Regions from separate parts of the Homo sapiens genome. Here regions 2, 3, 4 and 5 are each reported to be linked to region 1. Evidence: microRNA targets listed by miRTarBase, many of them from high-throughput screens and not tested one by one. Region 1 holds a microRNA gene; each other region holds the end of a gene's coding sequence.
Evidence for each region. The annotated mature microRNA hsa-miR-619-5p reads GCUGGGAUUACAGGCAUGAGCC and lies in region 1 at 1,009-1,030, shown strand. An mRNA with a match to its seed (bases 2 to 7 or 8) in the 3' UTR can be bound and repressed. Matches are read on the target gene's strand: a 7mer-m8 pairs with bases 2 to 8, a 7mer-A1 pairs with bases 2 to 7 and ends in A, and an 8mer does both.

Region 1 (3,132 bases):
GGCAGCATAGTGAGACCCTGTCTCTACAAAAAAATTAAAAAATTAGCTGGGGGTGGCAGCACACACCTGTAGTCCCAGCTACTTGGGTGGTTGAGGTGGAAGGATCGCTTGAGCCTGGGAGGTGGAGGCTGTGCTGCGTGAGCCGTGGTCGTCCCACTGCACTCCAGCCTGGGCGACAGAGTAAGACCCTGTCTCAAAGGAAAAAAAAAAAAATTGGTAACTCGAAAACTTGTAATGCTCCCAACACATACAAATGATTAATACTCAAGGTCATGGATACCCCAGATACTCTGACTTGGTCATTACACAGTTTATGCATGTAACAAATACTTACATGTTTTCCATAAATATGTAAAATACTACGTCGATAAAAAATTCTCGTTAATTTTGAGATAATTTCCAGCTTACATAAGAATTGCAAGTACAGTGAAAAGAACTTTCTTTTTTGAACCATTTGAAAGTAATTTGTCAACCTGCTACTCCATTACCCTTGGAATACAGACCAGGGCATTCTCCCACAGAACCGCAACACAGCCATCCACGCGGGACACTGACTCTGATGCATTCCCACCGTCTAGTCCTCTAACCCCATTCAAGAGTCACCATATGTCCCAGCGTTGTCCTTCATAACAAAAGATCCAATTCAGGACTGCCCATTGCATCTAGTTATCCTGTCTCTTGGCTCTCCTGCAGTCTGGAACCTTCCTCAGTCTTTCTTTGACTCTTGTGGCCTGGATTTTATTTTATTTTTTTATTTTTTGAGTTGGAAACTCACTCTGTCGCCCAAGCTGGAGTGCAGCGGTGATATCTCAGCTCGCTGCAACCTCCACCTCCCGGGTTCAAGCGATTCTTGTGCCTTAGCGCCCCAAGTAGCTGGGATTACGGGCATGCTCCACCACGCTCGGCTAATTTTTGTATTTTTAGTAGAGAATAGGGTGTTGCCATGTTGGCCAGGCTGGTCTCGAACCCCTGACCTCAAGTGATCCGCCCACCTCAGCCTCCCAAAATGCTGGGATTACAGGCATGAGCCACTGCGGTCGACCATGACCTGGACATGTTTGTGCCCAGTACTGTCAGTTTGCAGAGTGTCCCTCAGTGTGAGTGTGTCTGATGTTCTTGTGTGATTCCACCGGGCACGTGTATTTGGCTGGAACATCACCCAAGGGATGCTGCGTCCTCGTTGAATCCCATAAGGTGGCACTTGATTTCCTTTTGTCCCACTATGGTGACATTCACTTTGGTCACTAAGGTGGGTTTTACCAGGCTTTTCCACTGTACAGTTATTCTTTTCCCCTTCATCATTCAGAAGCATTCCTTGGAGAGATACTTTAAAATTATGTTAATATCCTGTCTGCCATCAATGTCCGTTTCAATTCTTTGTATTTTTCTGTTTTATTCAGTGGTTTATAATCTGCTCTTAAATTGTTGACATCCTTGCTCAAATTGTCCTTGTGGACAGTTAGGGCCAGTGGGATCTCATCCAGGCTGGCTTCTGTGTCCCTTTGACATGTCCACATCATTCTTTAAGTGCTTTCTTGCTTTCTGGCAACAGATGCTCCCTACCCACCTGTGGAATCAGTCCTTTATCCAAGGGGCTCTGGTTCCTTTTAGTGGAAAATGAAATTTAGGAGCCAAGCTAGGTCTGCTTATTGCTGTTGGGGTGTTGCTAACCACAGGCCTCTCAATGGGCAGAATTAGGGAACATTTGTATGTACGTGCATACACACACACGTGCATCTATATTTATTTCAATAGGTTGAAAACTATGAGTTCAGACTGGTACCTTCAATTCTGATGCAGCACCTTGGGGTTCATTCTAGTTTTGTCTCTCCATATTCATGACTCCCATTGTCCCTGAAATATTAATAAATATTAACATTATGCATATTATATAAACTTAGGTATTATTTATATTATATAGTATATATTTGTTAATATTGATTATATTAATATTAATATAATCGATTATATTAATATAGTTATAATCGATTATATTAATATAGTTATAATCGATTATATTAATATAGTTATAATCGATTATATTAATATAGTTATAATTGATTATATTAATATAGTTATAATTAATTATATTAATATAGTTATAATTAATTAATATAATATGTATATATGCTATATATCATAAATATATTAATTATAAATATTAATATTAACATTAATGTTTAATATTTCATTCCTTGCCTGTGAGCAGTCTCTGTCTCCCTTGCAGCCCCCTCCCTGCACAGATGCCCTTTGCACCCTGCTTGCCAACAGACACCTCAGCTTGGGATCCCACACCCCCTCCCCAACTCAGAAGCTTGCCCTGCCCTTCCCCGCCAAATGGTTTTTAGGTCTGAATTGTTGGGAGGAGAAGTGGACTTTTTTGAGACTGTTTTCCAGAGGTATCAGTTCAGCTGAAAGCCAGTGCCTAAGAGCAGAGGTTTCAGAGTTACACTCCTGCCTTCCCCTTCCTGCTTCCCGGCTCCTTGGTCTCATGAACTTGGGCAGGTGACTTAACCTCCCTGAGCCTCAGTGTTTGTTTGTTTTGTTTTCTGTTTTTTTGTTTTTTTAAGACGGAGTCTTACTCTGTTGCAGTGCTGTGGCACAATCTCGGCTCACTGCAACCTCCATCTCCTGGGTTCGAGTGATTCTTGTGCCTCCCAATAGCTGGGATTACAGGAGCACGACACCACGCTCGGCTAATTGAGCCTCAGTTCCCGTATGTATAAAACACTGAGAGATGGACACTGGGGAATAAATGAGTTAACATACCTGATGTGCTTAGCATAGCGCTCAACGAAGATGTTATTGGTGTTACATTTATTGATGTCCACTGTTTTCTGGGCACTGAGAGGGATCCTGAGACAGAGAAGTCATAGGCCTAGCTCTCCAGACACTCAAGGTGATGTGGGGAACTTAGCTGCTGTTGTGTTATTTGAAGCACTCAGTTGTCAGGAAGACCTGACCTGACCTCCAGGTGGCTTTAACTCGCACGTGGCATGATGCTGTGAGTCTTATTTGCCAGGTTCAACCTGTGTGTGGGGAGTGCCCAGTGTGCCCAGGGCACAGAGATGACCAGGGTGAGTTACTCCTGGAATACTGACTTCAGAGAAGAGCACAGCTTGGCCAGTGTAT
Region 2 (3,132 bases), not on the chromosome of region 1:
CTCTGGGGTGGGAGTGGTATAGACATAGTGGAGACCCTTCCCTGAAGTGGAGCCCCAGCCCGCATTATCACTGCAGGGCCTCTATGGTTCTGAATCTGAGTCCTTTGAGACACATGAAACACCCAGGTGGGTGCATGCTGCAAAATCCCAGGACCCCCACCGCTGGGTTGCCCCCAGATGGTAGGGCAAGGGTCATCTGACCTTCTTTCACTCCTGGCCTAGGAGCACGAAGCCTTCTACAGCTCGGCCCTGTGCATGGTGAACCAGCCAAGGCAGCTGCAGCACCTGGCCCGACTAGCTGTGCGCGCTCGGTTGGGAAGCCGCTGCCGGCAGGGTGCCACCCGGCTGCCACTGCCCCCGCTCCTCAGGGACTACCTGCTGCTGCGTGTGGAGGGGTGCATCCAGTGAACCCCATGTCAGGCTGTCCCATGGTGTGTTCTGCCCCTCCCACCTGTCCCCGCCTCCAACTGCGGAGGACCAGTTCCTGGCCCTCTTTTCTTTTCTTTTTGAGACCTAGTCTCACTCTGTTGCCCAGGCTGGAGTGCAGTGGCGCTATCTCGGCTCACTGCAACTTCTACCACCTAGGTTCAAGCGATTCTTGTGCCCCAAACTTCCGAGTAGCTGGGACTACAGGCATGAGTCACCACACCTGGCTGATTTTGTATTTTTAGTAGAGACAGGGTCTCACCATGTTGGCCAGGCTGGTCTCACACTGACCTCAGGTGATCCACCCGCCTTGGCCTCCCAAAGTGTTGGGATTACAGGCATGAGCCACTGCGCCTGGTTGCCTGCCCCTCTTTTCTGTACTCCACGTGCTGTCCTGGTCCACCTCACTCCTCCATGGGCTTCTTGAGACACCTGCTGACCTCTAGCCGGACCTGAGCTTCAGACCCTCTCTCCAGCAGGAAGGGCTGCAGACTCGGCCTGTTCCCAGACTCGGCCTTCACCTCCCTTCTCCTCCTGTGTTTAAGTGGATGGCCCCTCTATCCATCCAGGTCCCATGCCAAGAACCAGTGATTCTAGTGGCCCACCACCTCCCTCTCCTGCCACCCTTATACCTGTTCAGCCTCCTAAAGAGGGACAAACTCTGTCTCTGCGTGCACTGGCTTGCCTGCCCTGCCTTTGTCACTCCAAGGGAGATCTTGAGACCCATGCCCTGAATTGGTGCTGGAATGGTCTTTGGGAGTCAAACTCTGATCATGCCCTCCAGTGGCTCCTCTCACACTAAAATCAAAACTCTTTAAAACAAGCTGAGTGCAGTGGCTTACACCTGTAATCCCAGCACTTTGGGAGACTGAGGCGGGAGGATCACCTGAGGTCAGGAGTTTGAGACCAACCTGACCAACATGGTAAAACCCTGTCTCTACTAAAAATACAAAAAATTAGGCCAGGCGCAGTGGTTCATGCCTGTAATCCCAGCACTTTGGGAGGCCGAGGTGGGCGGATCACGAGGTCAGGAGTTCTAGACCAGCCTGGCCAACATGGTGAAACCCTGTCTCTACTAAAAATACAAAAATTAGCCGGGCATAGTGGCGGATGCCTGTAATCTCAGCTACTCAGGAGGTTGAAGCAGGAGAATCACTTGAACCTGGGAGGTGGAGGTTGCAATGAGCCAAGATCGCGCACCGCTGTACTCCAGCCTGGGCAACAGAGCGGGACTCCGTCTTAAAAAAAAAAAAAAAAAAAAGTCTTCCGTGAGGAGCGCAGAGGAGGTCGCGGCGCCGGAGGCCCCAGAAGGCTCGAAGGCACCGCGGGCTGGGGTCGGTGGCTTAGGGAGCCCGTCTGGCCATGGTGGCCGCGGGTGGTGGTTGGCGCGGCTGCGCTGCGGCCCGGGGCAGTGCGGACTGGGACAGTCGCGGCGCTGACGCCCGCGGGCCCCAGCTGCAGATATGAAGCGGAGCCGCTGCCGCGACCGACCGCAGCCGCCGCCGCCCGACCGCCGGGAGGATGGAGTTCAGCGGGCAGCGGAGCTGTCTCAGTCTTTGCCGCCGCGCCGGCGAGCGCCGCCCGGGAGGCAGCGGCTGGAGGAGCGGACGGGCCCCGCGGGGCCCGAGGGCAAGGAGCAGCCGCCTGCCTTGGCCTCCCAAAGTGCCGAGATTGCAGCCTCTGCCCGGCTGCCACCCCGTCTGGGAAGTGAGGAGCGTCTCTGCCTGGCCGCCCATCGTCTGGGATGTGAGGAGCCCCTCTGCCTGGCTGCCCAGTCTGGAAAGTGAGGAGCGTCTCCGCCCGGCCGCCATCCCATCTAGGAAGTGAGGAGCGCCTCTTCCCAGCCGCCATCACATCTAGGAAGTGAGGAGCGTCTCTGCCCGGCCGCCCATCGTCTGAGATGTGGGGAGCGCCTCTGCCCCGCCGCCCCATCTGGGATGTGAGGAGCGCCTCTGCCCGGCCGAGACCCCGTCTGGGAGGTGAGGAGCGTCTCTGCACGGCCGCCCCGTCTGAGAAGTGAGGAGACCCTCTGCCTGGCAACCACCCCGTCTGAGAAGTGAGGAGCCTCTCCGCCCGGCAGCCACCCCATCTGGGAAGTGAGGAGCGTCTCCGCCGGGCAGCCACCCCATCCGGGAGGGAGGTGGGGGGGGGGTCAGCCCCCCGCCCGGCCAGCCGCCCCATCCGGGAGGGAGGTGGGGGGTCAGCCCCCCCGCCCGGCCAGCCGTGCCATCCGGGAGGGAGGTGGGGGGGTCAGCCCCCCGCCTGGCCAGCCGTGCCGTCCGGGAGGGAGGTGGGGGGGTCAGCCCCCCGCCCGGCCAGCCGCCCCGTCCGGGAGGTGAGGGGCGCCTCTGCCCGGCCGCCCCTACTGGGAAGTGAGGAGCCCCTCAGCCCGGCCAGCCACCCCGTCCGCGAGGGAGATGGGGGGGTCAGCCCCCCCACCCGGCCAGCCGCCCCGTCCGGGAGGGAGGTAGGGGGGTCAGCCCCCCGCCTGGCCAGCCGCCCCGTCCGGGAGGGAGGTGTGGGGGGTCAGCCCTCCGCCCGGCCAGCCGCCCCGTCTGGGAGGTGAGGGGCGCCTCTGCCCAGCCGCCCCTACTGGGAAGTGAGGAGCCCCTCTGCCCGGCCAGCCGCCCTGTCCGGGAGGGAGGTGGGGGGTCAGCCCCCCGCCCGGCCAGCCGCCCTGTCCGGGAGGGAGGTGGGGGGGTCAGC
Region 3 (3,132 bases), not on the chromosome of region 1:
TCTAAAAAACAAAATGAAAAAAATTAAATTAAAAAAGGAAGATTATCTTGATAATAACTGCATGAAAGATAAGCAATTTAAAAAGCATAACCTAGTGTAAAAATGAAGTAACTGAATAATACAAAGAATTTTGTGGTAATGTTTTTTATGCAGAAAAAATAATATAGAATCTGCACATAATTTGAAAAGTAAATTACCAAGTGTCAGAAAACTGTTAAGATCTCAGTGTTATATCTTAAATTTAACCAAGTAAAAATTTCTGATATTCAAACACATGGCAGAAATGTCCTGAGGCAAAGTTTAACGAATCCTCAGAAAATTAAGGCTAAAAAAAAAATGGCTAAAATACAGAAAAAAAAACAGAAAATTAAGGCAAAAGAAAATTAAGGCTAAAAAAAATCAAACACCAAGTGTTCATCATACCTCAGCCTTTATTAACATGCAAGTACCATGTGCTTCAAGATAAACAGGCTTGCTTAGTCTTTGATTCAGTTTTAATGTCTTAAACTTAAGGTTACTTCTGATTCCAATACATAAAATAACCTATGAAAACTGGTCAAAGTTAAACTTTATTTCTATTTTTCTTTGTTTGAGACTGAGTTTTGTTCTTGTTGCCCACGCTGGAGTGCAGTGGCACGATCTTGGCTCACTGCAACCTCTGCCTCCCAGGTTCAAGCAATTCTCCTGCCTCAGCCTCCCGAGTAGCTGGGATCACAGATGCGTGCCACCACAGGCGGCTAATTTTTCTATTTTTAGTAGAGATGAGGTTTCACCACGTTGGCCAGGCTGCTCTGGAACTCCTAACCTCAAGTGATCCACCCGCCTCAGCCTCCCAAAGTGCTGGGATTATAGGCATGAGCCACCATGTCTGACCTTGACTTTTGAAATCACTATTTAGGTTTATACTTGGCATCATTTGTCACCACATGGCAGAATATAATTCTTGTACTTGATAAATAATCTTCTATATTAAAATATGTACCAGTATAGCTTAAGAAGTTACTAAGGCGGCTCTGGGCGCGCTGCCTGGAAGTTAGCCCTGCTCTGCAAGGAGCAGCTTAAAAAAAAGTTACTAAAAATATATAATTTATATTTAACTTCTTTCAATAAGCTGGAATGTATAATGTTTAGGTATAAGAGGAAAAATTACTTTTGTGTATGGTTTTTGCAGTTTCCAGAAAAGCTGGTCCATATTAGGCCAGTCTTTTTTTTTTTTTTTTTTTTTTTTGAGACAGTCTCGCTCTGTCACCCAGGCTGGAGTGCAGTGGTGCGATCTCGGCTCACTGCCACCTCCACCTCCCAGGTTCAAGCGATTCTCATGCCTCAGCCTCACAAGTAGCTGGGATTACAGGCGTGTGCCACCATGGCCTAGCTAATTTTTGCATTTTTGGTAGAGATGGGGTTTTGCCATGGTGGCCAGGCTGGTCTCAAACTCCTGGCCTCAAGTGATCTACCCGCCTCGTCCTCTGAAAGTGCTGGGATTACAGGCATGAGCCACCGGGCTCAGCCATATTAAGCCAGTCTCAAATAAGCTGGAGACTTAAGTTTATAGACCCTATAATGACAACTTTGTTCCACCTCTGAGATAAAGACAATACTAAACCCATCTCCAGTGCTTCTTTCCCCATGCATAAGGAATGATGCTGTCATATTTTTTCAAAAAATTTTTTGGCTGCTTAATAGAAAAGCTGAATGAGCTTGATTTCAGTAGAAGACCCACTGATTATGGGTATATTTATTGGGACATATTTTAATAGAAGATAATTCATGTAGGATATCTTCAATGCATTATAATATGATTTTCACTGTATCTCTTCACATGTTATTCCATAACATTCTAATTGGATGGAGAAAGACTGGAATAGTTCAAAAAGGTGTAGCTTTTAAGATCTGAATAAAGTTAATAGTGAGTCTTTTAAAATACATTTAAACAACTGGAAGTATAATCACAACAAGGGACTATGAAGGAAGAATAAATATTGCAAACGACGCTTTATAGTCAATGCAAATACAGTACTTTGAATTACCCAAAATGTATAATGCACAAGAACTCTAAGTCATGTAGTTTACTTGCTGACCATCTGGCTACAGTTCAGTTTCTTCTGCAAAAGCTGTACCTAGTAACCTTCCAAAATTGTTTTTAAATAAAGTTCTTAAATTGTAGCAATAAACAAAAGGACAAAGTACACTTAAAGAATACTGCAGTTTATCAAAAGACATAAGAAATTTCAACTCATACTTGGAGAGTTATAAAAATCAATGTTTTGGCTAAGTTATAAACATGTTTATAATGCAATTATTTGCATAACTCTAGTAATGCTAATGGCGGCTATAAGATTAGGTTTCTAAAAAACCACTAAAAACATAAAAATACTTAGCCTCATTATTTCCCTGTAGAACGTATTGATTTACACCTAAATTTCAGTATTTACTATATCATCATTGCTGATTTTAAGTCACATTCAAAGGATAAGGCAAAACCACCTACGAATTGGCATATTTGTTTATTTCTCAGTTTGTGAAAATGTCCTTAATTTGTTGATGTAGCAAACAAATTTCAACTTTGATTGCTATGCAAAAAAACAAGATAATCTGCTTTGCAATGAACTTTATATAGTTCAACTGCATACAGGCAACATGCTATATATGAAAAAGTTACTAACTGAACTACAGGTATTAAATACTGAAAAGAGTTAACAGTTTATTATAATTTATTTTATTTAACAATCTAAGAAGTTCGCAGCCATCAGCAGTTCCAGTGCAATTTCAGGTGCAATTGGGAATTCAGGAATCTCGGTGGAGCTGTTAGTGTAGCGAACCTTGTACGTAAAATACATGCATACTTTCGATAGCACATGTGAAGGTATCTCTCTAAAATTGACCTCATTGGTTTCGTTCTCAGCAAACTGACCTGTAAAACAAAAGAATTATGTATGTTATTGGCTGAATTGTGTCCTCCAAATTCATATGTTGAAGTCTTAACCCCTTGTACCACAGAATGTGGCTGTATTTAGAGATAAGTTCTTTAAAGAGGTAATTAAAAGAGGTCATTAGGGTGGCAATCCAATATGATTGGTGTCTTTTTGTTTGTTTGTTTGAGACAGAGTCGCGCTCTGTCACCCAGGCTGAAGT
Region 4 (3,132 bases), not on the chromosome of region 1:
GAATGAAATATTGCCTTTATCAAACTCCAGGTTAGTAAAGTCAAGACAAATAAAGTCAAGTCTATCTGAGATGGACTGTCAGCCATGCCTGAGAGTCATGGCTGCCTAACTAGTCCTGGATTGCTGGCTTGAGAAGGCATAGCTTTCTGGGGTCATTTTCTCTACATGAATTATTTGAATCTTCTTCCAATTCCTCCCCTTGCCACTCCTTCAACTCTAAACCCCACAGAATCCTGACTTAAGGTAGGAAATAAAATATGAACATAGGTTTAAGGTAAATTTTATTTGGCTTTGTGTAACAGTTGCAAAAAATTGAAATTCTATCAATGCCTGTATCCCTGTAACCCCGAACTGCTACCAACAAACTCTATGTACATGATGTCCTCACATATGGCATTTCTTAGTTTTTCAGGAAAAGGTTTGGTAGAGTCATTTGCAAGTCTTCAAGAGACTGAAGAGATCAAGTCAAAAGAAGCAATGGCAAGTTCAAAGTCCCCTGAAAAGTCTCCTGAGAATCTTGTGTGTTCACAGAATTCTGAGGCTGGATACATAAATGTGGCTTCTCTGAAGGAGACACATGGTATACAAGAACAAGACCAAAAGTCAGAACTATAAAATCACTGGTGCCTAAAGCTATACTGAACAAAAGTGGTAATTTAAAGCCTGGACAAAAGGTGGACCATGACATTGAGAAGAGTTACCACAGATCCCAAATGGATATCACCCAAGAGTCTTCAAAACTGCTGATAAATTCATTAAAGCAGTTGTAAAAATGGATTTCTCAAGTTTGTTTGATATCCTCAGATGCCTTGTATTGACCAAAATATTGACTTTAGTTCAATGATTTATTTAGGTTTCTCTTCAGCAGAGCACATGTAGGGTTAATTCAACATTCTTTCCCATTATCATGGGTATCTTTTCTGATTTATTTTTTAACAGTAAAAACAATACAGTCACATTAAAGCAAATTTTGTTTTTAAAAAAACCCTCCTATGCTGGGCGTGGTGGCTCACGCCTATAATCCCAGCACTTTGGGAGGCTGAGGTGGGTGGATCACGAGGTCAGGAGATCGAGACCATCCTGGCTAACACGGTGAAACCCTGTCTCTACTAAAAATACAAAAAAATTAACCGAGTGTGGTGGCGGGTGCCTGTAGTCCCAGCTACTCAGAAGGCTGAGGCAGGAGAATGGCGTGAACCTGCGATAGCACCACTGCACTCCAGCCTGGGTGACAGAGTGAGACTCCGTCTCAAAAAAAGCAAAAAACAAAAACAAAAACCCTCCTATAATACCATAAGCTTTTTTTTTTTTTTTTGAGACGGAGTCTCTTACTCTGTCACCCAGGCTGAAGTGCAGTGGCATGATCTCCGCTCACTGCAACCTCTGCCTCCCAGGTTCAACCAATTCTCCTGCCTCAGCCTCCCAAGTAGCTGGGATTATAGGTGCCCGCCACCATGCCCAGCTAATTTTTGTATTTTTAGTAGAGACAAGGTTTCACCATGTTGGCCATGCTGGTCTTGAACTCCTGACCTCAGGTGATCCACCCACCTCAGCCTCCCAAAGTGCTGGGATTACACCAATACCACAGTCTTAACACAACTAATTTTATTTTACAGTTATTCCCTTTTGGTCCTAATTCAAGTACATATATTCTAAGTGGTTATTATAATATTGTATATTCATTTTCACAGTTTGATTTTTAATTTACTGTATATACCATGGAAACATTTTCAATCGCCATATGATATTCAATCATGTTGATGTTCTATAATTATTTTTATGGGAAAAGTTTTAAATGTTTAATGAAGAAGATTTAGAGCAATACATTATTTAAAAGTGGATAGGAGGTTGGGCGTGGTGGCTTACACCTGTGATCCCAGCACTTTGGGAGGCCGAGGTGGGCAGATCACCTGAGGTCAGGAGTTCGAGACCAGCTTGGCCAACTTAGGGAAACCCCGTCTCTAACAAAAATACAAAAACAATTAGCCAGGTGTGGTAGTGCGCGCGCCTGTAGTCCCAGCTACTGGGGAGGCTGAGGCAGGAGAATCACTTGAACCCGAGAGGCAGAGGTTGCAGTGAGCCGAGACTGCACCAGTGCACTCCAGCCTGGGTGACAGAGCAAGACTCCATCTCGAAAAAATAAATAAAATAAAATAAAATAAAAGTGGATAGGAAAATACCAAGAGCTTTTCCTGGGGGAGGGGGTATGAGAAGAGAGTTCACATAAACCCCATTACACAGAAACTACCCCTAAATATTTCCAAACAGGAGTACAAAGTAGGTGAACAGTCTCCAGCTCATCTTTAGTGTAGTGGGACTGCTTCTTCAGAAAAGATCAGCAACATTCACATCCATTTCATCTATCAGGGTGGAACAGTACTGCTCAGTATCTCTGAGGATGTGGATGTTCTATAAATTAAACGTTCTCTTGTTTGGCATTTAAGCTGTTTTTACTTTTTTTTTTTTTTTTTTTTTTTTGAGACAGGGTCTCACTTTGTAACCCAGGCTGGAGTGCAGTGGTTTGATTACTGCTCATGCAGCCTCAACCTCCCATGCTTAAGTGATCCTCTCTCCTCAGCCTCTCCCAAGTACAGGCATGTGCTACCATGCCTGGCTCATTTTTGTACTTTTTGTAAAGACGAGGTCTCACTCTCACTCTATTGTTCAAGCTGGTCTCAAATTTCTGGGCTCAAGTGATCCTCCCACCTAAGCCTCCTAGGTGATAGGATTATAGGATGAGCCTCTATGCCAGGCCTGGTTTTACTTTGTTACTATTTAAGATTATGCTGTGTTGAAGGTCTTTGTGCATGTAGTTCTTTTCTTCTTTTGAATTACTCCAGAAAACAAATTCGCAAGATTGGACTGAGTCAAAGGATATAAATGTTAATATTGCTCTAGGACATCACTTCCTTTGCTTTAAAAAAGGGTTCTGCCTGACCAGGTGCGGTGGCTCACGCCTATAATCCCAGCATTTTGGGAGGCCGAGGCAGGTGGATCACTTGAGGCCAGGAGTTCAAGACCAGCCAGGCCAACATGGCAAAGCCCTGTCTCTACTAAAAATACAAAAATTAGCCGGGTATGGTGGTGCACACCTGTAGTCCCTGCTATGCGGGAGGCTGAGGCTCGAGAATC
Region 5 (3,132 bases), not on the chromosome of region 1:
ATCCAATCAGCTGTCCTGATATCAGAGTGCCTGTGTTCAAGTAACTCTTATTTTGCTCAGTGGCCCCAGATTGCAAGAGTAGTGATGCTGGCATGTCATAATAGTTCTATTTTAGTATTTGTTATTATTGTTGATCTGTTACTATGCCTAGCTCATAAATTAAACTTTCTCATAAGTATGTATGTATAGGGAAAAAAACAACATATATATGGGGTTCGGTACTATCTACGGTTTCAGGCATCCACTGGGGTCTTGGAATGTATCCTCCAAGGATAAGGAAGGACTAGTGTATTCCCCACACCCCTCCCTCTTGCTACCTTTTGCTGCTTTTCTTTAATCACCCTCTCCTCCTGTGGCCTGTTTCTATATACTTGGCATTCTGTTTGCTTTCTTTGTTTTGTCAATCACTTCCTTTCTTCTCTGCCCAAACCCTGGTTGCAGGTGGCAATGGCTACATCAATGACTTTCCCATGGGCCGCTTTCTTCGAGATGCCAAGCTGTATGAGATAGGGGCTGGGACCAGCGAGGTGAGGCGGCTGGTCATCGGCAGAGCCTTCAATGCAGACTTTCACTAGTCCTGAGACCCTTCGCCCCCTTTTCCTGCACCTAGTGGCCTTTCTTGGGAAGTAGAGATGTGGCGGCTTTCCCACCCTGCCCACAGCAGGCCCTCCTGCCCAGCTGCTCTTGTCAGCCCTCTGGCCTCTGGATGAGGTTGAGTTCTCCACAACAGCTCCCAAGCATCATGGGCCTCGCAGCCGGGCCTGTGCCACGGCTAGTGTTGTGTGATTTAAAATGGACTCAGCAGGAAGCATATTGTCTGGGGATTGTTGGGACAGGTTTTGGTGACTCTGTGCCCTTGCTCTCTAACTTCTGAGCCCACCTCCCAGGGTAGGCACCTGGGGGCATGCAGGTGCCCACCTCCCAGGGTAGGCACCTGGGGGCATGCAGGTACCCACCTCTTTCTCTTGGGTGAGGCTCTGGCAAGGAGATCTCTCTGCTCAAGCACAGCAGAATCATGGCCCCTCTCCATGAATTGGAACTTGGTACAGGTTAAGTATCCCTAATCCTGAAATCTGAAACACTTGTGGTTCCAAGCATTTTGGATAAGGCAAATTCAACTTTCAGTCTCTTTTCTGGGGGAAAAAAATAATAAACCTAGCCTAGCCAGGCGTGGTGGCTCATGCTTGTAATCCCAGCACTTCAGGAGGCTGAGATGGGTGGATCACCTGAGGTCAGGAGTTCAAGACCAGCCTGGCCAACATGTGGAAACCTCGCCTCAACTAAAAATAGAAAAAAATTAGTTGGGCATGGTGGTGGGCACCTGTAATCCCAGCTACTTCAGGAGGCTGAGGCAGGAGAATTACTTGAACCCAGGAGGCGGACGTTGCAGTGAGCCGAGCTTGTGCCATTGCACTCCAGCCTGGGCGACAAGAGCAAAACTCTTCAAAAAACAAAACAAAACAAAAAAACCCTGGCCCTTGTTTCTTCCAGTTTCTAGAGGTATCAGCTCCTAGCAGCTTATGAACACATATGCTTGCTTGGCCAGGCAAGGTGGTGTGTGCCTGTAATCCCAGCACTTTGGGAGGCCAAGGCAGGTGGATCACTTGCAGTCAGGAGTTCAAGACCAGCCTGTCCAACGTGGTGAAACCCCATCTCTACTAAAAATACAAAAATTAGCCAGGGGTGGTGGTGCACGTCTGTAATCCCAGCTACTCAGGAGGCTGAGGCAGGAGAATCACTTGAACCCGGGAGGTGGAGGTTGCAATGAGCCAATATGACACCGCTGCAGTCCAGCCTGGGCCATAGAGTGAGACTCTGTCTCAAAAAAGGAAAGAAAAATAGGCTGGGCACAGTGACTCATGCCTGTAATCCCAACACTTTGGGAGGCCGAGGCAGGTGGATCACGAGGTCAGGAGTTCAAGACCAGCCTGGCCAAGATGGTAAAACCTCGTCTCTACTAAAAATACAAAAATTAGCCAGGTGTGGTGGCAGGCTCCTGTAATCCCAGCTACTCAGGAGGCTGAGGCAGAGAATTGCTTGAACCCGGGAGGCAGAGTTTGCAGTGAGCCAAGATCACACCACTGCACTCCAGCTTGGACGACAGAGCGAGACTCTGTCTCAAAAAATAATAGGCCAGGCATGGTGGCTCAACGTCTGTAATCCCAGCACTTTGGGAGGCCGAGGCGGGCAGATCACAAGGTCAGGAGTTCGAGACCAGCCTGACGACCAACATGGTGAAACCTCGTCTCTACTAAAAATACAAAAATTAGCCAGGCCTGGTGGCACGCGCCTGTAATCCCAGTTACACAGAAGACTGAGGCAGGAGAATCGCTTGAACGCAGGAGGCAGAGGTTGCAGGAGCTGAGATCGCGCCATTGCACTCCAGCCTGGGCAACAGAGTGAGACTCTGTCTCAAAAAATAATAATAAAATAAATGAACACACATGCTGCTGAGTCCGCAGGGGGGGCAGAGCAGAGGACAGCGTGCTTTTGTGTACTGTTGGAAGACTGGCTCCTCCTGTACAGCACCTCTGAGCCCTTGTGCACCGCCCTGCCACGGGCACCATCCAGTCCTGGCCGTGTGACCACCCACAGCTGACTGGGCAGCAGGCACAGGCCCTACCCGAGCAGGCCGGAGTTGGCTCGCATGACTCCAGCTGAGGCTGCCTGTGTACATTTCTCCAGATACCCTATGGCTAATTTTGTTATAACTGCACAGTGGCTGCTGCCATTTTGTATTAAATATATTGTGAAACAAACCTATCTGGGGAGAAGCAATCTACTTGCCGCTGCTTCCTGTCTGGATCCAGCTTGTGTCCTTGGAGAGTGGCTGGCCCAGGTCCTATTCCTGTCCTCCAGCCCGTTCTTTCATGAGGGACAGGAAGGTAAAATCAGCCCTTAGGAGAGAGGTCTCAGCCTCCCTTTCCCAGATCTCCCAGTGAGTTTTAAAGGAAGCAGGGAGCCCAGAGTGCTAAGTTCTTACAGCCAGAAGGAAGCTTATAGATTTCTGAAAACCGCCCCTTTGTTTTTAAAAAGATCAACACAATTTGACTTTCTCAAGGTCAAAACGAACTAGAATCCAGATCTGCTCATGGCAAAAATGGGGGTGTTCTGAGAATTCCAGCTTTGGGC

Region 2: miRTarBase lists ASB16 as a target of hsa-miR-619-5p. Seed matches in the 3' UTR shown: 7mer-A1 at 929-935.
Region 3: the mRNA of ELOC is a reported target of hsa-miR-619-5p. Seed matches in the 3' UTR shown: 7mer-m8 at 1,476-1,482 and 7mer-m8 at 1,340-1,346.
Region 4: the mRNA of CCDC30 is a reported target of hsa-miR-619-5p. Seed matches in the 3' UTR shown: 7mer-m8 at 1,021-1,027, 7mer-m8 at 1,874-1,880 and 7mer-m8 at 2,963-2,969.
Region 5: miRTarBase lists IVD as a target of hsa-miR-619-5p. Seed matches in the 3' UTR shown: 7mer-m8 at 1,190-1,196, 7mer-m8 at 1,327-1,333, 7mer-m8 at 1,568-1,574, 7mer-m8 at 1,703-1,709, 7mer-m8 at 2,002-2,008, 7mer-m8 at 2,160-2,166 and 2 more.

Annotation. Positions count from the first base shown.
Region 1 is chr12:108,834,860-108,837,991 of GRCh38, reverse strand. MIR619 (microRNA 619) reads left to right here and starts at 986; the gene lies at 986-1,084. The region is part of intron 2 of SSH1 (slingshot protein phosphatase 1); the gene reads left to right. RefSeq lists an enhancer at 1-130.
Region 2 is chr17:44,177,983-44,181,114 of GRCh38, forward strand. ASB16 (ankyrin repeat and SOCS box containing 16) reads left to right here. Exons shown (of 5, transcript NM_080863.5): 5 at 223-1,102. The coding sequence ends at 408. All of the region lies in intron 2 of ASB16-AS1 (ASB16 antisense RNA 1), which reads right to left. Among named protein-coding and RNA genes, the nearest start is that of ASB16-AS1, 7.2 kb to the right of the region's middle.
Region 3 is chr8:73,943,910-73,947,041 of GRCh38, forward strand. It overlaps ELOC (elongin C), which reads right to left. Exons shown (of 4, transcript NM_005648.4): 4 at 1,210-2,911. The coding sequence ends at 2,721. Among named protein-coding and RNA genes, the nearest start is that of ELOC, 27 kb to the right of the region's middle.
Region 4 is chr1:42,653,414-42,656,545 of GRCh38, forward strand. CCDC30 (coiled-coil domain containing 30) reads left to right here. Exons shown (of 21, transcript NM_001395517.1): 20 at 1-30; 21 at 405-3,132. The coding sequence ends at 615. The region is part of intron 1 of LOC124904162 (a long non-coding RNA gene); the gene reads right to left. Among named protein-coding and RNA genes, the nearest start is that of PPIH, 3.4 kb to the right of the region's middle.
Region 5 is chr15:40,417,689-40,420,820 of GRCh38, forward strand. IVD (isovaleryl-CoA dehydrogenase) reads left to right here. Exons shown (of 12, transcript NM_002225.5): 12 at 442-3,132. The coding sequence ends at 575. Among named protein-coding and RNA genes, the nearest start is that of IVD, 13 kb to the left of the region's middle.